7 linked regions of the Homo sapiens genome follow. The protein of the gene in region 1 purifies or fractionates together with the protein of each later gene. This does not show direct contact. Each region holds a gene or a part of one and is shown in the gene's direction. Other genes may lie near its edges.

The links.
Region 2: the proteins of FSCN1 (region 1) and IPO4 purify together in Homo sapiens (affinity purification with mass spectrometry, with the first as the bait; one study listed by BioGRID). This does not show direct contact.
Region 3: the proteins of FSCN1 (region 1) and HADH purify together in Homo sapiens (affinity purification with mass spectrometry, with the first as the bait; one study listed by BioGRID). This does not show direct contact.
Region 4: the proteins of FSCN1 (region 1) and LOXL2 purify together in Homo sapiens (affinity purification with western blotting; one study listed by BioGRID). This does not show direct contact.
Region 5: the proteins of FSCN1 (region 1) and ASS1 fractionate together in Homo sapiens (co-fractionation; one large-scale study listed by BioGRID). This does not show direct contact.
Region 6: the proteins of FSCN1 (region 1) and TMEM33 purify together in Homo sapiens (affinity purification with mass spectrometry, with the first as the bait; one study listed by BioGRID). This does not show direct contact.
Region 7: the proteins of FSCN1 (region 1) and LMO7 purify together in Homo sapiens (affinity purification with mass spectrometry, with the first as the bait; one study listed by BioGRID). This does not show direct contact.

What each region holds. Positions count from the first base shown.
Region 1 is NC_000007.14:5,599,316-5,602,815, forward strand, and holds part of FSCN1 (fascin), read left to right. Parts: intron 1-3,500. UniProt on the Homo sapiens protein: Actin-binding protein that contains 2 major actin binding sites. Organizes filamentous actin into parallel bundles. Plays a role in the organization of actin filament bundles and the formation of microspikes, membrane ruffles, and stress fibers.
Region 2 is NC_000014.9:24,182,768-24,185,816, reverse strand, and holds part of IPO4 (importin-4), read left to right. Parts: intron 1-249; coding exon 250-358; intron 359-504; coding exon 505-634; intron 635-836; coding exon 837-950; intron 951-1,053; coding exon 1,054-1,167; intron 1,168-1,398; coding exon 1,399-1,519; intron 1,520-1,707; coding exon 1,708-1,819; intron 1,820-1,918; coding exon 1,919-2,034; intron 2,035-2,149; coding exon 2,150-2,227; intron 2,228-2,303; coding exon 2,304-2,361; intron 2,362-2,461; coding exon 2,462-2,567; intron 2,568-2,647; coding exon 2,648-2,841; intron 2,842-2,974; coding exon 2,975-3,025; intron 3,026-3,049. UniProt on the Homo sapiens protein: Nuclear transport receptor that mediates nuclear import of proteins, such as histones, RPS3A, TNP2 and VDR. Serves as receptor for nuclear localization signals (NLS) in cargo substrates.
Region 3 is NC_000004.12:108,024,389-108,027,888, forward strand, and holds part of HADH (hydroxyacyl-coenzyme A dehydrogenase, mitochondrial isoform 2 precursor), read left to right. Parts: intron 1-3,299; coding exon 3,300-3,372; intron 3,373-3,500. UniProt on the Homo sapiens protein: Mitochondrial fatty acid beta-oxidation enzyme that catalyzes the third step of the beta-oxidation cycle for medium and short-chain 3-hydroxy fatty acyl-CoAs (C4 to C10).
Region 4 is NC_000008.11:23,299,759-23,303,120, reverse strand, and holds part of LOXL2 (lysyl oxidase homolog 2 precursor), read left to right. Parts: intron 1-957; coding exon 958-1,094; intron 1,095-3,362. UniProt on the Homo sapiens protein: Mediates the post-translational oxidative deamination of lysine residues on target proteins leading to the formation of deaminated lysine (allysine).
Region 5 is NC_000009.12:130,496,961-130,499,367, forward strand, and holds part of ASS1 (argininosuccinate synthase), read left to right. Parts: intron 1-2,407. UniProt on the Homo sapiens protein: One of the enzymes of the urea cycle, the metabolic pathway transforming neurotoxic amonia produced by protein catabolism into inocuous urea in the liver of ureotelic animals.
Region 6 is NC_000004.12:41,948,929-41,952,428, forward strand, and holds part of TMEM33 (transmembrane protein 33), read left to right. Parts: intron 1-373; coding exon 374-457; intron 458-3,500. UniProt on the Homo sapiens protein: Acts as a regulator of the tubular endoplasmic reticulum (ER) network by modulating intracellular calcium homeostasis. Mechanistically, stimulates PKD2 calcium-dependent activity. Suppresses the RTN3/4-induced formation of the ER tubules.
Region 7 is NC_000013.11:75,856,330-75,860,366, forward strand, and holds the end of LMO7 (LIM domain only protein 7), read left to right. Parts: intron 1-176; coding exon 177-279; intron 280-1,591; coding exon 1,592-1,614; coding exon of another isoform or gene 1,615-1,684; 3' UTR 1,685-3,537; downstream 3,538-4,037.

The sequences.
Region 1 (3,500 bases):
AAGAGGGTGGGGCAGGGAAAGGGCGTGGCAAGAGGGCCACCCACCTCCGGTCCAGAGAGCCAGCCAGACCCTTACTTTCTCTTGCTGTGTGACCTTAGGCAAGGACATGCCACCACCGGCCTTAGTCTCCCTCTTTGTGAAGTAGGATGAAGATCCCCACCTGTGGAGCAGATGTGGGGCTGCATGGTTGGGTCAGGATGGAACAGGATGGGGAGGCCGGGCGTGGTGGCTTACCCCTGTAATCCCAGCACTTTGGGAGGCAAAGGTGGGAGGACTGCTTGAGTCCTGGAGTTTGGGCAACATAGCGAGACCACCCCCATCTCTACAAAATAATGTTAAAGTTAGCCAGGTGTAGTGGTGAGTGCCTGTGGTCCCACCTACTGGGGAGACTGAGGCAAGAGGATCCTTTGAGCCCAGGAGGTGGAGGCTGTAGAGAGCCATGCTTGGGCCACTTGCACTCCAGCCTGGGCAACAGAGCAAGACCCTATCTCTAAAAAAAAAATGGAATTGAGGATGTGTCCTCTGGGTGTGGGCTCTACCACCCACCAGCCTCCCTCTCCTGTGGGTGCTGCCTGCCACCCACCGCTGAGGTCCCTGCAGCATCAAGGTGCCCAAACGAAGACACTCTCCAGCTCTGAGCCAGGCACCCATACAGAGCCCGGCAGACGCCTCTGCTGCTGCAGTTCTTAGAATCCAGAGCGCGTGGGGAATGTGAATTTGTGCTGCTGGAGCCAAACATCCCACCTCCAGGTTTTAGCTGGAGGAATCCATGTGGATATGCAAAGCAATGTAGTTATAATGAATAGCAATTGTGGGCTGGGCGCAGTGGCTCATACCTGTAATCCCAGCACTTTGGGAGGCTGAGGTGGGTGGATCACCTGAGGTCAGGAGTTTGAGACCGGCCTGGCCAACATAATGAAACTCCGTCTCTACTAAAAATACAAAAAAATTAGCCGGGCATAGTGGCGGGTGCCTGTAATCCCAGCTACTCAGGAGGCTGAGGCAGGAGAATCACTTGAACCCAGGAGGCAGAGGTTTCAGTGAGGCGAGATCGTGCCATTGCACTCCAGCCCGGGAGACACAGCGAGACTCTCTTTCTCAAAAAAAGAATAGCAGCTTTGCTATAGCTTAGGGGAGCAAAACCCGAAAGCCACCTTAAGTTTCCCGAAGATAGAGATCCCTGGGGTCCTATTCTGAGACAGAGTCTTGCTCTGTCGCCCAGGCTGGAGTGCAGTGGCGGATCTCAGCTCACTGCAGCCTCCGCCTCCTGGGTTCAAGCAATTCTCCTGCGTCAGCCTCCCGAGCAGCTGGGATTACAGGCGCCCGGCACCACCCCCAGCTAATTTTTTTTTTTTTGAGACAGAGTCTCGCATTGTCGCCCAGGCTGGAGTGCAGTGGCGCGATCTTGGCTCACTGCAAGCTCCACCTCCCGGGTTCACGCCATTCTCCTGCCTCAGCCTCCCGAGTAGCAGGGACTACAGGCGCCCGCCACCGTGCCCGGCTAATTTTTTTTTTTTGTATTATTAATAGAGACGGGTTTCACCGTGTTAGGATGATCTCGATCTCCTGACCTCGTGATCCGCCTGCCTCGGCCTCCCAAAGTGCTGGGATTACAGGCATGAGCCACCTTGCCTGGTCCTTTTTTTTGTATTTTTAGTAGAGATGAGGTTTCACCATGTTGGCCAGGCTGGTCTCAAACTCCTGACCTCATGATCCGCCCGCCTCGGCCTCCCAAAGTGCTGGGATTACAGGTGTGGGCCACTGTGCCCGGCCAGTCCCATTCTACTTTTTAGGGACATGGAATCATGTAAAGATGCCATACAGAAAACAGTATGCAAATCCAGAGACAGAGGACATCTGTGCATGTTTCTTTCTTTCTTCCTTTTTTTTTTTTTTTTTTTTTTTGAGATGGATTCTTGCTCTGTCGCCCAGGCTGGAGTGCAGTGGTGCAATCTCAGCTCACTGCAACCTCTGCCTCCCAGGTTCAAGTGATTCTCCTGCCTCAGACTTCCAAGTAGCTGGGATTACAGGCATGCCCCACCATGCCCAGCTAATTTTTGTATTTTTAGTAGAGGCGGGGTTTCACCATGTTGGCAAGGCTGGTCTTGAACTCATGACCTCAGGTGATCCACCCGCCTCAGCTTCCCAAAGTGCTGGGATTACAGGCGTGAGCCGCCGTGGCAACCCGCATGCTTCTTATGTATAAGAAAAAAACAGCTAGAAAGTTGTGGGTTCACTGGCTGGGCACATGGTGGCTTGTGTCTGTAACCTCAGCACTTTGGGAGGCTGAGTTAGGAGGATCATGTGAGGCCGGGAGTTCAAGACCATCCTAGGCAACATAGCCAGACCCTGTCTGTACCAAATAGAAAAAAAAATTAACTTGATGTGGTGGTGTGTGCCTGTAGTCTCAGCTATTTGGGAGGCTGAGGTGGGAGGATCACTTGAGCCCAGGAAGTCGAGGCTACAGTGAGCTATGATTGTGCCACTGCACTCCAACCTGGGCAACAGAGCAAGACCCTGAATCAAAAAGAAAGAGATGTATTTGCCAACACAGGGGTGTTCTGCAGTGGGGTGGGAAGGGGACGTGTAGGACTTCATAGTTTCCTTTTTTTTGTTTTAGAGACAGGGCTTAAAAAAAAATTTTTTTTTTTTTTTTGAGGCGGAATTTCATTCTTGTTGCCCAGGCTGGAGTGATCTCGGCTCACTGCCATCTCCGCCTCCCAGGTTGAAGTGATTCTCCTGCCTCAGCCTCAGGCAATTTTGTATTTTTAGTAGAGACGGGGTGACTCCATGTTGGTCAGGCTGGTCTCAAACTCCCGACCTCGGGTGATCTGCCTGCCTTGGCCTCCCAAACTGCTGGGATTACAGGTGTGAGCCACTGTGCCTGGCCCCTTTTTTTTTTTTTTAAGTAGGGTCTTGCTAAGTTGTCCAGGCTGGTCTTGAACTCCTGGTCTCAAATGATCCTCCTGACTTGGCCTCCCAAAAGGCTGGGATTGCAGGAGATATGAGCCACCGCACCCGGCCCTTTTATAAGTTTTCTAAAGGAAAGGAACATGTACCATCGTGTTTTATTTTAATTTTTACATAGAAGCAGGAACAATAGCATGAACCCCCAGACACGGCCCCCCAAGATGCGCTGTTCCGCTGTGCTGCAGCCCCATTTGTCCTTTTCTATACCATTTTTGGTTGTATTTGAAGCAAATCCCTGACATCAGGGCATTTCATCCCAAAATACTTCCATCTGTGTTTCTAAAAAAACGAGGCCATTTTCTTATGTAACCACAACGTGATCAACAGTAATCAATGCTTAACATCTAATTCTGGGCCACGTTAAGACCCTCCTGATTGGCTCAAGAATGTCTTTTGTGCAGTTGGTTTCTTGATTCTTTTTGTTTTTTTTGAGACAGGGTCTCACTGTGTCACCCAGGCTGGAGTGCAGTGGTGCAATCACGGCTCACTGCAGCCTCAGCCTCCTGCCTCAGCGATCCTCCTGCCTCAGC
Region 2 (3,049 bases), on another chromosome or scaffold:
ACCATGGCTGTCCTGGTTTACGCTTGTTGTTCAAGCTTATTTATCAACAGCGTTTCCCCCCATTATCAAAAGTGTCCTGGCTTGGAAGATAAATGACATGGCTTACCAGCTATAGGGACCAGGGGCTGCTGCCCACCCTCTGGTGACAGGAAAAGCCTTGGTTTTTCCAGGGAAAATGAAGAGAACAGGTCAGCCTAGGGCTCTCAGGTGTAGCTTCTCAGCCTATGTCCTCTTGTTTGCCCCATCCAGACTGCTGCCCCCACTGCTGCAGATTGTGTGCAAGGGCCTGGAGGACCCCTCGCAAGTTGTACGCAATGCTGCGCTGTTTGCCCTGGGCCAGTTCTCAGAAAACCTACAGGTGAACCAGGCTGAATGTGGGAGCCACCACTTGAATGTCCCCTTCCCCTCATCTTTCATCTCTTCAAGCATCCCTGCTGCCATCAGCACTCTTGTGTGTGCCCGGCAGGTGAACCTGACTCAGGCCCTGCTTGCTCCCTCCCCCAGCCCCATATCAGCAGCTATTCAAGGGAGGTAATGCCACTGCTCCTCGCCTACTTGAAGTCGGTGCCTCTTGGACACACACACCACCTAGCCAAGGCCTGCTATGCCCTGGAGAATTTTGTGGAGAACCTAGGTAGTGATGGCAGTGGGGAGCTTGGGGAAGGGGGATGAGGCGGCGGCTTTGGCTGAATGTACAGGATGTGCATCTCCCTGCATTGCTGCCTGTGGTAGGGGAAAGGGTGTGATGGTGCCAAAAAAAGGTTTCCGCCTGGAGGGAGGTGGGCGTGCAGGTAGCAGACCTGGGTTGGTTGGTAGAGGAGCATCCTTTCCCACAGGGCCCAAGGTGCAGCCCTACCTTCCGGAGCTTATGGAATGCATGCTGCAGCTTCTGAGGAACCCCAGCAGTCCCCGGGCCAAGGAGCTGGCTGTGAGCGCCCTGGGAGCCATTGGTGAGGAGAGAGGCAGGAGGCAGGGATGTGGGGTTCACCCAAAGGCCCTGTGGCTGGTGGTCCCTGCCCTCTCCAGCTCTGATTCTGTCCTTCCATCCTGCAGCTACGGCTGCCCAGGCCTCGCTGCTGCCCTACTTCCCTGCCATCATGGAGCACCTGCGGGAATTCCTGTTAACAGGCCGTGAGGACCTTCAGCCTGTGCAGATCCAGAGCCTGGGTGAGTGAGAGGTTCCCAGGTGGGGCTCCCAGTGCCAGCAAAGGGCTGGTGCTCACCTGGTGTTGACAGATTGCCCCCACAGGAGCACGGATGTCTTCCTTCTCATCAAAGGGGTGTGCTTCATGCTGTACCAAGGGGTGGGGCGGGATTTCTGAATCCCTCCCAGCCACCACCTTTGGTCCCGTAGCCCACCTCCACCTCCTGGTGCTAATGGAGCCCTTGCCCCCACAGAGACACTGGGGGTGCTGGCACGAGCAGTGGGGGAGCCCATGAGGCCGCTGGCTGAGGAATGCTGCCAGCTGGGTCTGGGCCTCTGCGACCAGGTAGACGACCCTGACTTGCGGCGCTGCACGTGAGTGACCCCTCACCCTGCCTCTGCCCTTGTCCCCTCCCCTCCTGTCTTCCCACTGGACCCACTGGAATCCCCACCCCAGACTCCAGTCGTCTGGTTTGGACCATAGCCAGGTGTTCCCGGGCTCCCCCATCCTGCCTGGTGGTAGCAGGCAGGACCTTACAGCTTCTTCTGCCTGCTTTGACCAGGTACAGCCTATTTGCAGCCTTATCGGGTCTGATGGGTGAGGGCCTGGCGCCCCACTTGGAACAGATCACCACGCTCATGCTGCTGTCACTGCGTTCCACCGAGGGCATTGTGGTGAGCAAAGGGTGGGTGGGCTGGGCCAGGCCTGCCCTGCAATGGGATTTATCTCCTGGGCCCAGCTGAGCCAAAGTCCTTGCCGTGCCTCCGCTCCAGCCTCAGTATGACGGGAGCAGCTCCTTCCTTCTGTTTGACGATGAGAGTGATGGGGAAGAAGAGGAGGAGCTCATGGATGAGGATGTGGAAGAAGAGGATGACTCAGAGATCTCAGGGTGCGGAGGGGTGCTCTTCTGATCAGGAATCTAGACTTTGGCTTTAGACAAGGGCCTAGTGCTGGATCTGCTCCTCTTGGTGCCTGATCACCACTGCCTCCCCTTCTTACTCTAGGTACAGCGTGGAGAATGCCTTCTTCGATGAGAAGGAAGACACCTGTGCTGCCGTGGGGGAGATCTCTGTGAACACCAGGTGAGCATTCGCCCTTCCCTGGCACTGAAAACCCTGCCTGGGGGCCCCTTACCCACGGCTGTGTCTCTCTCTGTAGTGTGGCCTTCCTTCCATACATGGAAAGTGTCTTTGAAGAAGTATTTAAACTGCTGGAGGTGAGCGGGCCGGCGGGTGGAGTGGGTGGGGTTCTCAGGCTGGGGGCCCTGTGTTCACGGTGCACATAGCAGACATATCCCGCCCCTCCTCATCCTGCAGTGCCCTCACCTGAATGTGCGGAAGGCAGCCCATGAGGCTCTGGGTCAGTTTTGCTGTGCACTGCACAAGGCCTGTCAAAGCTGCCCCTCGGAACCCAACACTGCTGGTGAGGAGAGGCTGGGCCAGGCTGGGGGTTCTTGGGGAGGGGCAGGGCCTGACTGGTGCTTCAGCCAATAATGTCCCCAGCTTTGCAGGCTGCCCTGGCCCGAGTCGTGCCATCCTACATGCAGGCAGTGAACAGGGAGCGGGAACGCCAGGTGGTGATGGCCGTGCTGGAGGCCCTGACAGGGGTGCTCCGCAGCTGTGGGACCCTCACACTGAAGCCCCCTGGGCGCCTCGCTGAGCTCTGTGGCGTGCTCAAGGCTGTGCTGCAGAGGAAGGTGAGCAGGGCAGGTGGGCTTCGGGAAGGAGAGGTGCTGGGCCTCGGTTGGGGACTGGCTACAAGTCCACCCCCTACCCCCATGAAAAGAGAAGGGGCGTGAAAGCTCCGCTAAGTTGAGCTACTTCTTGTAGACAGCCTGTCAGGATACTGACGAGGAGGAGGAAGAGGAAGATGATGATCAGGTGAGAGCCAGGGATAAAAACGGG
Region 3 (3,500 bases), on another chromosome or scaffold:
ATTATAGTTCTCATAGCAAACTTTTGCTTTCTAAAATATTCTCGAGTTTGAACTTACAGTACTGTACTAACCCATGAAAAATCATGTTGTTCATGAATCACCTGAAGAAGCCATCTGTTGAGGTGGACTCCAGCAGCCAAAGAGAGCAGGCTTGTGTGTCCTGCTCCTCCCCGTCCATGGGTAAAGTGTTGTTAGGGAGTCTCATGCTTTAACACCCATTTTTTGTTTGTTTGGTTCTGTAGTTTTAAGTCATCTAGATTTCTAAACTCATATTAATAATTGGATGTTATGATTGTACTTTCTTACGCAGTTATGCTTTGTTAGTGGAAGAAAGTAGTAATGGTATTGAAAAGAACATCTGTGCAAGACAAAAAGATATGGAAACAGAAGTACAGGGAAAAGCTAATGATTATCTTCAGCAGCATAATAATTAATCTACAAAGTAATGATTCAGTCTTCCATCAGAGTGGCCACGGCAGCTGCAGAGATGGGAACTCTTTGTTCTCATTAAATTATCTTGTTAGGTCATTCCAGAACTCTCTCTGTGTGGTATTCTAAGGGCTTTCAGAGGGTCTTTCTGGGTCAGTTATTGAAGCTCTTTATGAGGCATCTGGACAATATATGGCAACTACATAGGACAAGGGTCAGCAAACTTCTGTAAAGGACCAGATAGTGAATATTTTCAGCCATACAGTCTCTGTTGCAAGTAGTCAGTTCTATTGTTGTAGCATGAAAACAGCCATAGACAGTATATGCAATATGAGTGTGGCTGTGCTCCAGTAAAACTTGACTTACAAAAACAGGCTGTGGGCTACAGTATTGTACTTTACCAATACTTGACATAGAAGAGGGGCATTAATGTGCCTGGAATGTGCCTTCCTAGTGAGACTTCATGAGGGGATTGTGGTATATAGGTTAAGGGTATGAACTAGCCCAACTGGGTTTAAATCCTGGTGCCGGCACTTATTAGCTGTGTAACCTTAGGCAAGCTACTTAACCTCGCTGTGCCTCAGTGTCCTCATGCTTCACATAAGGATAATTATAGTACCTCTGTCACAGGGTTATTATGAGGAATGAATAAATTAATATTTTTAAAGTATTTAGAACAGTACCTGGCACACAGTAAGTACAGTAAATAAAATGTGTTTAATAAATAATCTGAAAAATATGAATTTGATTACATAAAATAAAATTACTTTATTTAAAGATTGTGTCTCCTGCTAGGCACGGTGCCTCACGCCTATAATCCCAGCACTTCGGGAGGCCAAGGCTGGTGGATCACTTGAGCCCAGGAGTTCGAGACCAGCCTAGGCAACATGGCAAAAACCCTCTCTACAGAAAAATAGCTGGGCATGGTGGTGTGCACCTGTGGTCCCAGCTACTTGGGAGGCTGAGGTGGGAGGGTCGCTTGAGCCCAGGATGTGGAGGCTGCAGTGAGCTGAGATCATGCCACTGCACTCCAGCCTGGGCAACAGAGCAAGACCCTGCCAAGAGAAAAAAAAGACTGTGTCTTTTCACATTCCACCAATATACTGATAGCATCTGTCTCTCTGCATTCTCAATAGCATCAAATATTATTACAGTGGGGGAAAAACCTTTGATAATCTTGTTGGCAAAAATGCGTATTTTTTTGATTACTAGTGAGTTTATTTATTTATTTTTTTATTTTTCGAGATGGAGTCTTGCAGTGTCTCCCAGGTTGGATTGCAGTGGCGCAATCTCAGCTCACTGCAACCTCCATCTCCCGGGTTCAAGCGATTCTCCTGCCTCAGCCTTCTGAGTAGCTGGGACCACAGGCGCGTGCCACCACACCCGGCTAATTTTGTATTTTTAGTAGAGACAGGGTTTCACTGTGTTGGCCAGGCTGGTCTTGAACTCCTGACCTCATGATCCTCCCGCCTTGGCCTCCCAAAGTGCTGGGATTACAGGTGTGAGCCACTGCGACTGGCCAGTGAGTTTAAATATTTAATGAGTCTTGGCACTTTTTCCTTATTGAGCTCTATGAGCTTTTTCTGTAGAAGATATTAACTGTTGGAGCTTCATGTTCTCAGGTACCCTATCTTGAGTCTATAGTGAACCTTTTGAAGTTGAAAAGAGTATTTTTGCCTCAATTATAAAATCTGTATTGTTCCATAATCTTAATTAAGCTGATAAAACTTGTTTGTGCATCTTTGTGCTCATGTGGCAATAGATGGGGTTAGGGCTTGGTTTCAGTTTGCCTAGGGTTAAAGGAGGTTCACATCCTTTGTGTTACTGTCCAGTTTCCCCGCATGCAGTCAGGTTAGCTCTGTGAGGAGTGCCTGGTCATCTGTAATTCAGACATTAAGGAAGTACCTGGTGTGTGCTAGAAACAGAATGCAGAGTTCAGGCCAGGGTGAGGATTTCTGCCCTCAGGAAGATCACAGCCTTTTGACAAAAGAGGAGGCACCATTTGCCTAGTGGAAATCAGCTTCAACAAAAAAATCACCTGCTTTTCTCTACAAGTCCCCGGAAGAGATCAGTAGATAAAATCCAAATCCCACACCTGTCCTCCAGAGAGATGATTATTGTTAGTTACTGAGAAGGGAAATGGATGAAAGGCATATGTGGCACAGGGGTCACCGCAGGATGCAGAGGTCTTAGGGGGTGTGCCGTGAAAGGCCAGCTCTCTGTCAGAGGCTCTGCTCCTTTGTCGGAGCACGTGCCCTCAAGTCAGCTCCACTGCAGTGTGCGCTGGAACCTGAGAAGTTGCTGAGTAGCCGAGGAGTGGCTCCAAGGAGCCTGGAAAGCAGTCCTCCTTTGAGGACCATTCAAGGTGGAGTGTGACGTTTTGTCGATTCTTGAAAGGGAATTGGGAGGAAAGAGGAGGAATAAAGGGATGGGTGTAGGGCTGTGTGTACAGCATTTTATGTGTTTTCTGATTTATCTTCACAACTTTGAGACAAACTGTCACCCCCAGTTCACAGATGATGAAACAGATTCAGAGTGACAGAAGGACCAAGAGAGTATTCAAGATTGAACCCAAATCTGTCTCTCCCAAAGCCATGCTCTTCCAGGTCACACCTGTGCCTTGATCTGTCTTTATGTCAGGATCTGTGCAGTGGGGCATCTGGGTTTGAATGTTTTTTTAAGTACTATGATTGTTGGATAAATTGTCATATGAGATAGAAATAAGGCCATGCTGCAAATTTTGAAAATGTACAGCTTGATAAATGGGGGCAAACATGATCCAGGGTAAGAAGGGGCAATTTGGTGACTTCACAAAAGATACCATTTAATGAAAATTTACTAGTTTTTTGTTTTTCTGTCTCCCAAAACAGGACACTCCTGGGTTTATTGTGAACCGCCTCCTGGTTCCATACCTCATGGAAGCAATCAGGCTGTATGAACGAGGTATCCTTCTGACCCAGGCCAGGAGCAGCAGACCTCAGCTCCTGGCGCCACTGTCTGGAATTCTCAGTGTCTCTAGGAGGGGTCGGGCCGTGCACAATGGAGGAAGCAGTGTCTGTTTTCTAGCTTTG
Region 4 (3,362 bases), on another chromosome or scaffold:
GGGGCATGGGCATGACCTGGTTCCAAGGGCACCCGGATTCCCCAGAGCTGTGCTGACAGGCACTGGTCGGTCCACAGGGCCTCCTGGACAAGATCCAGACTCTGGGGACCCTGCTCCATCTGGGCTTAGCAGCCTAGACCCTGATGCGTATGCCCCTCCCACTCTGGCTGCCACCAACCTTTTTTCTGGTGTCCCAATGCCAAGTGTCCCTACCACACCAGGTGTCACCCTTCAATTATATCTCAAATGCCCTCCTCTGAAGCGCCCCCCCGTCCCGGCAGGTGTGGCACTCTGCTCACACTTCTGGTAGGTCACCACACCTGCCCTGTGATCACCTGTTAGTGCACCTGCAGCCCTGGGGGCTCTTCATGGGGAGACATGTCAGTTCTTCTTGCTAGACCCACTGTTTACAGCAGTGTCCAGGCATGGCAGCTTCTCAGTAAATGCGTGTTTAATTTGTTATTCATTGAAGCGGCCCGCCACTGACTTGCCGTGAAATCACACAGCAGACAGGTGTTGACCTCTTACCATGTGCAGATAACATGTAAGTGTCAGAGAGACATGGGCCTACACTCTAATTGCCGATCCTCCAGAGGAGACAGACAGTATGACCCCCCACGTTTTGCTAAACCACAGGCACCAGAGATTTCCTCGGTCCACACACACGCAGTTATCCCCAGGCTGAGGATGTCACAGAAAGGCCAGGGTGGATCAGAGTGGTCAGGGAGGGCTTCATGGAGGAAGGGGAACTTGAGCCTGGCCTGAGAGAAGAGGCAGGATGTGGGTAGGGAATTGAGTGGGGGGTTCTACTGAAATGAGAACAGATGAGCAGCCCACACAGTGGGGTGGGATGCCGAGCCCAGATGAAGCAGCGGTAGGGGCCTTGGAAGCAGGAAGAGGGTGCGGCAGTGGGGCCATGGTTCCCTGGTGATGAGCTCTCCTCTACCCTGCCCGCAGACATCCAGAAGAATTACGAGTGTGCCAACTTCGGCGATCAGGGCATCACCATGGGCTGCTGGGACATGTACCGCCATGACATCGACTGCCAGTGGGTTGACATCACTGACGTGCCCCCTGGAGACTACCTGTTCCAGGTGAGGTGGGTGGGAAGGGGTTCCAGCCCTGCAGGGGGAGGAGGGGAGGCCACCTCCACAGGCTCCTTCCCATTGGTGTCCACACAGGGGCATGGAAGTCAGGCTGTCTAAAGGGCAAGGTGCTACCCCCAGAGGCCATCACGGTCCATCAGTTAACCCAAAGATATCAGGCATGGGGGCCTGAGAAATAGGGCGTGCACAGGACCAGAGACACCACAGGCATTCACATTTGATTGAGTTAACACCTGGTGCATGCAAATCAAAACTCATCAGCAGGCTAGATTTGCTCCTCCGGCCAGTTTATTCCATACATGCTCAGGCAACCCACACCTCTTGTCTCCTATGGAGCTCTTGTCTCCACCATCCCCATTTCTCCTAGTGCCCTAGGCTGCCTTGGTCTGTGCTTTCAAGACTGAAAGCAAACTCATAAAGAGCCAGTCACTTGCAAATATCTGTGACTTAGCTCTTCCGGAAATATCTGCCTCATAGAGGAGGATCTGCAGAAGGGGCCATTCTCAATGCAAAGTGAATCTATAAGAATAAAATACTGAACACGAGACACAGCCTGGCCAGGTGACTTCTTTGTCAGAGGGGTTGCCGAGATTTGTTTCCACATACTCTGGGTGGAAGGCCAGCCCTGAGGAGGAACAAGGGGGCCTTGGCTTCCCTCCTTCCTGAAAACAGCGGCATGTTCTGGCCAGGGCTCTAACTGGGGGAGAAAAGGGGCATTGTGTCCCTAGTGTCTCTCCCAGTGCACGGGTACACGTAGCCTGCAGAAGCTTTATCTCACCCTCTCACTCTCTCCTACGTCCTCACCCATCTCGTTTTCCAGCTTGCCCTGTTGGCTAGCAAAGTGGATGACCAGAAATGTGTCATTCCACCTTGAAAGCTTTCCTGAGGGGGCATTCAGCCAGCCCAGGGCCTGGCCCACGGTCCCCACCTACAGACAGTCCTCTGAAGAAACAACACCTTCAGAGAAGTCACCACAGAGGGGCTTTCAGAGAATTCCTGGGCAGTTTCAGAGGCTGGAAAGCAGACAGCCAAGCACTTTTCCACCCACAAGCCCAGAACCACAGACTTGGAGAGGCCTAACCAGAGAGTTATTTATTTTAAAAGATGAATAGCCGTGGCCATGTGCACGTATACAGTGCCTGGTGGTTTCTGTTTGAGGTTTGCTATCATTTTGCTGGGTGAGTGTGTATCTCCCTGTATTCTGGCCAGTGCCATCCACTTAATAACTACTATCAATTGCCTAAGCCTGGGGAATGCATTGTTTGATTTAATCTCCCAAGGAAGGGGCATCATCATTACCCTCATTTCACGGCCACCCAACCCCAGACATATCAACTCTTTATTTTGTTTTCTCAACCCCTAAACAATACAATTAGCAAATGGACTCATTAGGGGCATGTTAATACCTCTGATTAATCAAAAAGAACATTCCCCTTAAGATAGACATGGAGCTTCTTTAGGTGCCACAAGCACCGGCCTGGGGACTCACGGGACACAAGAGGTGGTCTTCACTTCAGACATCAGTGGTGCTGTGAAGGACAGGAGGAGGGAGCTGGGCGAGGAGGAAGTGACCGTCCACGCAGAGGGACCTGTGCAGAGCTCAGAGGCAGGGGTGAAGGGGCCTCCTGGCTCCTGGTGGCCCCGCTTTATCCGCTTTCTCATCATTTCCTAGATTCACAGACATACAGAAACCTAAAGCCACTTCCCGCAGGCCCTCGTGAGATGTCGGTCTGCAGTAGATGAGTGGGGTGAAACAGTGGGGGACACACATTTCCAGCCCCGCCTCCACCCCACACGTAACACTGGCCCTCGTGTCCCCAACACGAGCCCTTGCTGCATCCAGCCGCCCTCACGGCTGCACTGTCGAGACGCCTGGGCGGCCAAGGAGCTGCCTAGGCCTGCACAGCTGGAGGCCTTGGCATGTGGAGCTGTGTTTGCCCCATGCCATGTGTGGGCCAGGAACGAGGGGGCAGCTAGAATGGTTGGGTGGAAAAGAAAAAACTCAAGCCGCCCCGGAGCAGGGCATGTACCTCCTTAGCTAAAGGCACAGGGCCCCAGCGGGACACAGCTGAGCCAGGTGCAGGCCCCCAGAACAGCCCCGCTGGGCCAGAGCAGAGGGCCGGCTGCCAGGCTGGCCTTGGCTTCCCACAGCACCTCTTTGGGCAAGCCCAGCGGCCTGCTAAAGGTTCGTGTCCAGGCCCTTCTGGGGCCCCAAATTTAGAGAATGTTCCTGAACGAGCAGCCTGTACCCGCCCC
Region 5 (2,407 bases), on another chromosome or scaffold:
GTCAATATTATTTTTTTCTTTCCCTTCTCCTTGCCATGTTGAGTTTCTCCCCGCTTCAATCTTTCTAAACACTTTATAAGCCATAAATACAACTGAGTCAGTTTAGATCAGTTGGGGTAAATGTCAAATTATCTTCTCTCTTTCTCTCTCTGGCTCTTTCTTCCCTCCCCCTCCAAATCAACAGCCTCTAATAATCTGTCCAACCCTTCATTAAGCCTTACAGTCTCACTCAGGGAGATTAAATGAATAAAGTAAAAAGGGAAAGGGGAAAAAAGAGAGAAAAGCAGGAGCATTTATTCTCACTGTGTCTCCGACCATTTCCCTTTTCTTTTTGATTTCTACATCGCTGACTTGAAAGCCCTTGAGTGACAGCGTCACAGGGACCAGCGAGGAAGCCGTGAGAGGTAGCAGAGCTGGAAATGCCGTGGCTCAGTAGGTAGAAAGTAACGTAATTATAGAGCAGGTCAGAGCCACTCGAATGAGCAAAAATAAAAGCACAGAGGTTTTCTGTAGACCGTCAGGGGAGGTAAAAAAAAAAAAAGAAAAAAATCATTGTAAACTCTTTTTCCACCTCCCCGCTCACTTCAAACCACAATTTTAAAAAGAGGTTTTTTAGTTCCTGAGAAACCCCTCTTGGAACTCCCAGCAGCCTCGTGGGACAAGTTTGTCCCTGGATGTGGGCCCTCTTTGCAGGGGCTGCCAGGGCAGCTGGGAAGTTCCCACCTTGGGGAACGGGATGGGGAGAGTTTGTTGTGACTTGTGAGAGATGGAGGTGAAGGGACAGATGGACACAGAGGTGGGGGGATTCTGTGTCCTACGTTCTCCCTGGGCTGAGTATAGGGGCCAGTGGGGCTGAGGCTCGGTTTCTAAAACAAGGTCTGTTGAAGGGATCTGAGGAGGTTGGTGGTCTAGTTTGGTCTAGCTCTTCCTAAGCACTGACTGCACAGAAAGGGGTGGCCAGCAAAAGTCTGGTATCTCCTCCTCTTCCAGGGAATGCAAGCTCCTAGTGGCTTCAGTGCCTGAGCCCTGGAGGGGCCGTGGAGGTGTGGAGGAGGGAGGAAGGGACATCAAGGAGGTACAGGAGCATGGGAGTGACTCTGCAGAGAGTTCCACGCACCCACCGGCTTCAAGGCCTGGTGAAGGTCAGGGCCCGGGTCCTGAACAAATCACTGGGGCCAGGCAGATGCAGAGACCTCATTTGTTCTTGTAAAAAGTCCACTGTCTACAAAGAACCAGTCAGAGGGCCAGCCTCAGGGTCTCAAAGCAGCAGATCCTCCTGCCTCCCAACACCGACCCCCGCTACCCCTACCTCGAGAACCTTGAGTCAGCTTTGTCCCAAGGCTGGAATTCTGCAGACAAGGGTCTGATTCAGAGCAGGACATGACAAGGGACCCCATCCTCTCAGAGGCTCAGAGGCTGGCCTTGTGGAGTAGGAGGCATCTGAGTCCACGTGCCCTAAGTGCTTAGCACAACCATAATTAATGAAGGCAATGGGTGATTGATTGCTTCGGTCTGGCCCCTCCCTGTGGACACCACTCTTGCTCTTCCTTCCTTGGCACCTGGCCCAGCATCTGGCAGGCAGCAAGGGCTTAATAAATGCCTGAACAAATGAATGAGTGAATGAATACTGTTAGTACTAGTGGGTGCTCACCATGTGCCAGGCACCAGCTACATTATTTCATGTGGGGCCAAATGTGACACTGAGAGCTAACCACCATCACGCATTTCACAAGTGCAAGGCTGAGGCTCCGAGTGCAGGAATACTGGCCTGGGCTCTCTGGTGGCGGGTGGCGGAAACAGGACGCAAACCCCAGTCAGCTGGCTGGAGTGACTGCCATGGTTAGGAAGGTTGGGAGGAGCAGCTAAGGGTGGAGAGCCCCAAAGCAGAAGGCTGGTGAGTCTGAGAGGTGGAAACTGTAGAGAGGTAAAATCTGCTCTGCTGAGTACAGCAGCAGTCAACCCAGCATTTTCCATGACACACTGGCAGTGGGTGCCCAGGTTTCAGGATGGATTAGGTAAGGTCTAACTGGTTGGACACATGAGGGGAAAGGTGACTTGGTGGGCCCATCTCGCTGTGAATGCTGGAGGCCTCCCTGCAGCTTGCGAAATGCCCTTGTGCTATTGCAATTCACACCCCAAGGCCTCCTGAGCCTTCAGGTCACTGCATGCCATCCACACAGTCCCAAGGGCACAGCTGGCTTGGACGAGTTACCCATTTACAGACAGAGTGCTCTGGTTGGTGGAATTCATAGGGCTAGTTCTGGGGTGGCTGCTCCTAGCCTCCTGCCACATTGTGTAGCAGGGAAGAGGCTGCTGTGTGCTCCACTAGGGCTCTCCAACCTTTGGGTGGGTGCCTGGCCCAGAACAGGGTTCCCTGAGTTGTACAGAAATTCAATGGAAAGCCGAC
Region 6 (3,500 bases), on another chromosome or scaffold:
TCTTTTTATATATATAAAATAAGTCACTTTTCATTTGCATATTTTATGAAGCTTTACAACTTGATTTCATCAATTAGTAATTACGGAATTATTTAACATTTTCTGATTTATTTAGTATTTTAAAAAATTTCAAAAGTAATACAGATAAGAATACATTTATAAAAAAATTAAACAACATTTTACTCTTTACCAATCATGTACATTCTTTTATATCCTTTTTTAAGGATAACTTGGATTTAGACATGATAGATTTCACTATGACCATTTGATGAATGAAGATACACATATTCTCCAGTTGAATTGCTTTTAAGTTTTGAGAGTATACACATGAATTGAAATGTATATTTATCACGCTTGTATTTGTTTATTTCAGTGGTCAAGGAAGTTTGCTCCAACCTTTTATATACTATAGATTTCTTACCCTTCGATATTCGTCTCGAAGAAACCCATATTGTCGGTAAGCTGATGATTATTTTAGGCATGTTTTATTTGTTGAGAGTATTGTGAATATATAGTATTCGCAATTCTTAAGAGTTACTTAGCTAATGTGTTAGACTTTAGAAGCAAGCAGTGTTTTTGTAAATTTAAGTTCTAGGCCTTAGAATGTACTGGGGTTGGTGAGGAAGTGGTTGTATTTGTTCTTAGAAACTGAGACTGCAGTTATCTACGCCACCTCTAAAGCACTGCTAAAACTTAGCAAATTTTAAAATGTATAAGACATAGATTCCACTCTCAACTTTCCTAGTTGAAGAAACAAAACACGTGTCAATTAGATAAACAATGGTTAGGATACAGAATTCACAAGCCAATAGATAATGAATGCCATATGTTTGCTTTATTATATCAGTACTGCAGTCCACAGAAGGGAGAGATCATTGGGCCAGAAGATAGATGAGCCCAGGAAGGTTTCACAAAATTGAGATTGTGGGAGGAGTAAAGCTTTTGAATAGGGAAAAGCATTTTAGGTGGGGCAAGAGAGACGAGAAGCACAAGCCATATTTGAGGAACTTTATGTAGAGCTGTTTTGACTCTAATGGAGATTCTGAATGGCTAATTGCTGGAGCTAAGATTAGAAAGGTATATTGGAGCTATATTATAAAACTTCTTGAGTTTTAGGGTAAGAAGTTTGGAATTTATCTTTTAGGTGAATGGGAATGATGGTTTTGACATCGTCAGAATATTCTTCTGATACCCTTGTGCCAGAAGAGTTTGAAGCAGAAAAATGGGGAAGCAGAGAAATTTTAGGGAATTACTGTAGTTTTCAGGAATGGAGGCTTAAATTAATATACACTAAATTATGCATTCTGATCTCAAGCATTGGAGTAAAACTAAAATGATACTCAAATACTAATATTAAGATAATCTATTTTTAAGTTTAAAATAATGTAGAATTCAGCTAGAAATCCAATGAGTGCATTACAGCAATCTGTATATTTTCATAAGTACAGTAAAAAGAACTTGAATTTGAATGCTGGCCCATCATTAACTAGTTGTGTGACTAGGCAGGTTATTTATTTGGATTTCTTCATTGGTAGAGGAAATAACTCCTTCTGGGGGTGAAGCGAAGTAATATTTTAAAAGTACTTAGACTGTTATGTTCTTACTAGTTCATTTTCATTATTCTATGATCTGATTTTCTGTTCAGAGCGTTTTTATGCTCTATTAGACAATGTCTTTTTTATAATACTTTCTAAAATAGAACTTATTTTAGACATTCGTTCTTAGTGAGTCTCTAGTAGCAAATTAACATTCATTTTTACTTGATTTCTTGAGTTTTAGCCTTTTTTCTTTCTGGTCCCTATATTCATTTCAGACATTATCTTATATTCTCTTGCCCTGACATCTGTTATTTTAATCAGCATATTTGTTTTTCTGTGCTTCTTTGTGCCTCCTTCTCCATTCCCATTTTCTTCACATACCCTTAAATCATATTAGTACATCTAGAATTCAGTTTTCAGTGGACTGAAAAGGAAAGGATAGCAGTGAATCAAGATAACACAAATATGTGCTGGTAAACATCTTCAAAGCTGTCTTATAAGCACCCATTTTAACCAAACCAGTGGAAAGGTAATGGAAAATATTTCAGCTTGTAAATATTGATAAACAGGCTATAAAACTACATTTTCAGTACTACACTTTTTTTAATTAAAGGTTTTGAGACCATCTCTATTCACAATTTGTACCATTTTCACCTACGATATTTATTCTCAAGTTGGTGGTTTCAGTTGTTTTTGGATCTCTAGTGCAGATTGTCTATAGCTGTGCTGTCCAGTACAGCACAGCAACCACATTTGACCTTTAAATAAAATTCATAAAACTTAGAACTTGGTTCCTTTTGAGCACAGTTCAGGTGGGTACTCAAAAGCCATGTGTTGCTGATGGCAACTGTGGGTCAGCACACATATGCAAAAATTTTGTCATTACTCAAAGTTCTGTTGTCAGTGCTATTAAGGAACTCTCTGACTGGTCCTTCAGCACAGATATGCAAAAATTTTATCATTGTTCAAAGTTCTGTTGTCCGTGCTGTTAAGGAACTCTGACTTGGTCTGTGCCAGCGATGCAGCCAGTAATAAAAGAACTATGTGACTTTAGTGAAAGCGATTGACTTCATTAGTCCTCATGTCTTCTAGCTTTATTCATTTGACTGATTGGTTAAAACAGTGATTGTATGTTGATGAACTTATGTGGAATTAAAATATCTTCTTTCAGAGGTACTCACTGCTGAATAAATTAGACAGCTATGTAAGTCAGTGTGATGATGAAGGTGCTCTGAAAGCATAGAGAACAGACAGAGACAAATAAGAATTCACTGAGGAGGTGGGAACATAAGCCAAGTCTTTTAAAGAATGAGCCTGAGTTCTGACACATGGGTGCCTGAAAAGTGCTTAGCATACTTGAGCTCAGGAAGTATATAGAGAATTGATAAATATCTGTGTCCACAAAGGTAGATGGTAGAAAGGACTAGATCATGAAAGGGTTTGGATTTTATTTTGAGGTAAGGAGAGCCTTTGAAGATTGTAACATAGAGAGGCTGGGAACCCCCATGATGAAATCTGATTTAGAAATATTCCAGAAAATGGATTGCAAGCTCAGCAAGAGAAGAAAAATATCAATTTGGAGACTATTAGAGTAGTCTAGAGCCTGAATTAATCCAGTGGTAAAAGGAAAAGGGGACAAATATGAAAGGTATTAGGAGATAGGATATTAGGGCTTGAGAGAAAAGAGTAAATTAAAGACCCACAGGTTTCTGGCTTGGAAGCCTAAGAGTTGTAATGGTGCTCTCACGAAGACAGGAGATACAGGAAGGGCAGGTTTTGGAAAATTATGCATTACTCCAAATATTATTATTCCTGTCTTTCTGTGCAAGCATATTAAATACTTGTTTAGAAAAGTAGATTTGTTGCTTTTTTTCTAACCATAGAAGTAAAACAGGACACAAAAAGGTAGAATAGTAGTTGCATCTTTATACAGGATGAGTCAGCACATAAGGTGAAAATTGT
Region 7 (4,037 bases), on another chromosome or scaffold:
TATCTGGCGGTCTTGATTTGAATCTACTAATCATCTTTCGGCCTTTTTTTTTCTTTGCTGAAATGTATCTAAGAGCTTAGAAGTAGCATTCTGCTCATTTCCCCCCCACCCCCAGGAGTGCCCCAAGCTTTCTTGAGCTGACTGATTGTAGATGTTCTTTTTTTTTTGTTCCCCAGTGTGTTGCCTGTGAGTGTGACCTCGGAGGCTCTTCCTCAGGAGCTGAAGTCAGGATCAGAAACCACCAACTGTACTGCAACGACTGCTATCTCAGATTCAAATGTAAGAGAGCAAATCAGAGAGAAAATTTCTTGCCTTTTAAGGAGGCCACGGGTTCCCATGCATTTCCCTGAACCTGCAGCGAGCTCCCCTCCAAGTTCACTGCCATAGGATTCCAGGTTTCAAGAATTGTAGTGTGTTCCCTTCAAAGAGTGTGTATAGTGAATGGGTCACTGCTCAGGGTTCCAGCTACACAGGAGTGGGTTGTGGGGCCAAGGAATGGAGAGGAACAGTGTCCAAAAGTCAGGATGGTGTCTTGTGTTATCTGCCCAGAGTCCGCAGAGACCTTTAATGACTCAAGAATACAAACAAACCAAAACACTTAAATGAATCTTCTATGTAGGATTTGTTTCTTGACTAAAGATTGGTCCCTCATCAACTTCTATTATTTAACAATGGGCTTTGATTATGTGATTTAGAATATGACCAACTTTAAAAAATATTGTTCCATGTAATACAAAATAAGTCAGTTTATGCTTTATGTTAATATATGTCAATATATAATTTTAAAAGGAAAGTATTAACTATGGTGTTTCAGTGTCATTTTTGGAAAAAATGAGTTTTTCAAAAAACTTCAAATGCTACTTTGCATCTAAGCATGTGTTTGTGTGTTATAAAAGGTAGGCTAGCATAACTAGGTTGTGTGTTGTGTATAGCTACAGCAAGACAAGTATTACTGCTGTTTTATATTTTAAACCTTGATGCTGGTAACATGTGTTTCTTCCTTATTGTGAAAGGGTGTTACAAGTGGTATCAGCAAAATCATTTGCTTTTGAACTCTGAGGTATTTATATGGCCCCTATGTGAAGAGTGCTTTGGAAATGGTTTAAGCCCAGTCAACTCTCTTTTATCTGTCGGTGGGTTCTGAGCCTTCCTGCTGCAGCTGTCCAGTCCTTTCCTGGATGCTGACACTGAGGTTGGAGAAAGTCAAGGCTGGGCATGTACTGGTGGGGGGTGTGTGTATGTGTGTGTGTTTTTCTCTCTCTCATCAAATTCCAAAGCCAAATAGAAATGATTTCTGGAATCACCATTGTAAAATTGCCCATGCCTTTTCTCTCCTCCAAAACAAATAATAGAGAGTTGAGTGTAATTTATTTCTATTGTGAGCAGTTCATTTTTACTCCATTTTTACAAATAAAGAATTCCAGAGACGAGACACTGAGACTTGCCTAGCTTTATCCTAAGAGTGAGTGACAGGTTACTCTTTCTACCTCATTGGGCCACTTTCTGAGTGATGACTGCTATGTATCCCAGATGGCAATATTCACGTTTCTGAATCTAAGCACTTTTCTTTCTTTTCTCCTTGCCCGATCAGCTGGACGGCCAACCGCCATGTGATGTAAGCCTCCATACGAAAGCACTGTTGCAGATAGAAGAAGAGGTGGTTGCTGCTCATGTAGATCTATAAATATGTGTTGTATGTCTTTTTTGCTTTTTTTTTAAAAAAAAGAATAACTTTTTTTGCCTCTTTAGATTACATAGAAGCATTGTAGTCTTGGTAGAACCAGTATTTTTGTTGTTTATTTATAAGGTAATTGTGTGTGGGGAAAAGTGCAGTATTTACCTGTTGAATTCAGCATCTTGAGAGCACAAGGGAAAAAATAAGAACCTACGAATATTTTTGAGGCAGATAATGATCTAGTTTGACTTTCTAGTTAGTGGTGTTTTGAAGAGGGTATTTTATTGTTTTTTAAAAAAAGGTTCTTAAACATTATTTGAAATAGTTAATATAAATACATAATTGCATTTGCTCTGTTTATTGTAATGTATTCTAAATTAATGCAGAACCATATGGAAAATTTCATTAAAATCTATCCCCAAATGTGCTTTCTGTATCCTTCCTTCTACCTATTATTCTGATTTTTAAAAATGCAGTTAATGTACCATTTATTTGCTTGATGAAGGGAGCTCTATTTTCTTTACCAGAAATGTTGCTAAGTAATTCCCAATAGAAAGCTGCTTATTTTCATTAATGAAAAATAACCATGGTTTGTATACTAGAAGTCTTCTTCAGAAACTGGTGAGCCTTTCTGTTCAATTGCATTTGTAAATAAACTTGCTGATGCATTTAACGAGTGGGTCGTCTTTTTCTTAGGTGTATGTGTCTGACCTCAGGCCTTTTAGCCATATTTCAGTATGTGGCCTTTTTTGATGTTATGTTTTATCCAGTAGCTTTACTAAGGTATAATTGATGTAATAAACTGCATATATTTAAAGTGTATACTTTGACAAATTTTGACATGGTGTATACCTTCGAAACTATGCCACAGTCTGGATGTGTTTACTGAAACATTTTAATAAGGAAGTTTATTTTTGATAAAGTTATGTTTTTGGATACAATATATTTGTATGGTGAGAGTGATGAATTGTTGGATCATTTGAATAAAATCTTTTACTAACCCCATGATAAAAGGAGAAGACAACAGTGAGCTTAGAATATCTATAAAGCAAAAAATGTAGTCTCTTGTTTAAAAAATCTGGAGCGGGAATGCAAGGATACAAAACTTTAGCATGCTTTGAGCAAAAATTTAAACTTACTGGAATCTTTTATAATAATGTAAGTGGAATGGAGGATTCTAGGAACTGAGAACTGTATTGGAATAGGTTCAAAATATGTAAGAAATGCTAATGTGGGAGATAAAAATTTTATTTAGTACTTATTCTGATTATTATTAAAGTAATAATGTGTTCCTTGAGGATAACTTGTCAAATGCCCCAAAGCATAAAGAATATAATTCTGAATCCCAAATTCCAAAGACAAGAACTCTGTGTTTGAATTCATTCTGCATATAATTATTTATAAGTATAGATTGTGAATTTTTCCATGTTCTTAAAATTATTTTTATCTTTTTTCATGGTTGCATAGTGCTCCATTGTTTGGCCTTGGTAATATTTAGTTGATAATTCCATTACTGTGTATTTTTCACTTGTTTCTAAGATCAAACATTTTAATATGTGCATGTTATATATAAATATGTAAATTCTGTGATACTCTATGATCATCTCTTTCTTTATATTATTTTCATAGACATGAAATAGTTGCTCAGAGATTATGCATTTTAAGACACTCATAGTATATATTGCCAAAGTGGTTTCCAGAAAGGCACTGCTGGCTTCGACTCCTATAAGCAGCACGTGGGCTTGTTCATCTCACTGCATGTTTATGAAGATACAGTTCTTTTGCCTTGTTCTCTGCCTGATGTGTATGCAGAGGCAGCCCTCAATATGCAGTGGTTGAATAAATGAATGAAGAAACCACTATCAATTTCTGCCTTGTTAATTCTGTTTTCCACTGTCCCCAGAGGATGCCTTAATTCTGCCATCATTTTCGTTTCCTTATCCAAAATCCTTTCTGACCATTGCTCCTTTTCATCTAAGCCTTTTGTCTTTTCATCTGCTCTTGTTTTCTTATGATTTTTTCCCCCATTTCTCACATTATCTTACTTAGTGATAACATTTCTGTTAGTACAAATTATAAGTACAGTTTTCAGAGCTATTTTCTTCTAGGATACCGGCTCTACATTTGTATAAGCCCTTGGGTATTTGTTACTTCACCTAGGAACAAGGGAAGAGTCCAGCCCTTCAACAAATTTTTTAATTCATACTTTATGCTCCAGGCACTGCTTTTGGCACCATGGGTAGAACAGTGAAGAAATACAGTCTTGGCTCTGATTGGTCTTATTTTTCTGGTTGAGGGAGGTGATAAAACAATACATGAAAAAATAACATGCAGGTGGCGATGAGAGCAACAAAGAACAAAT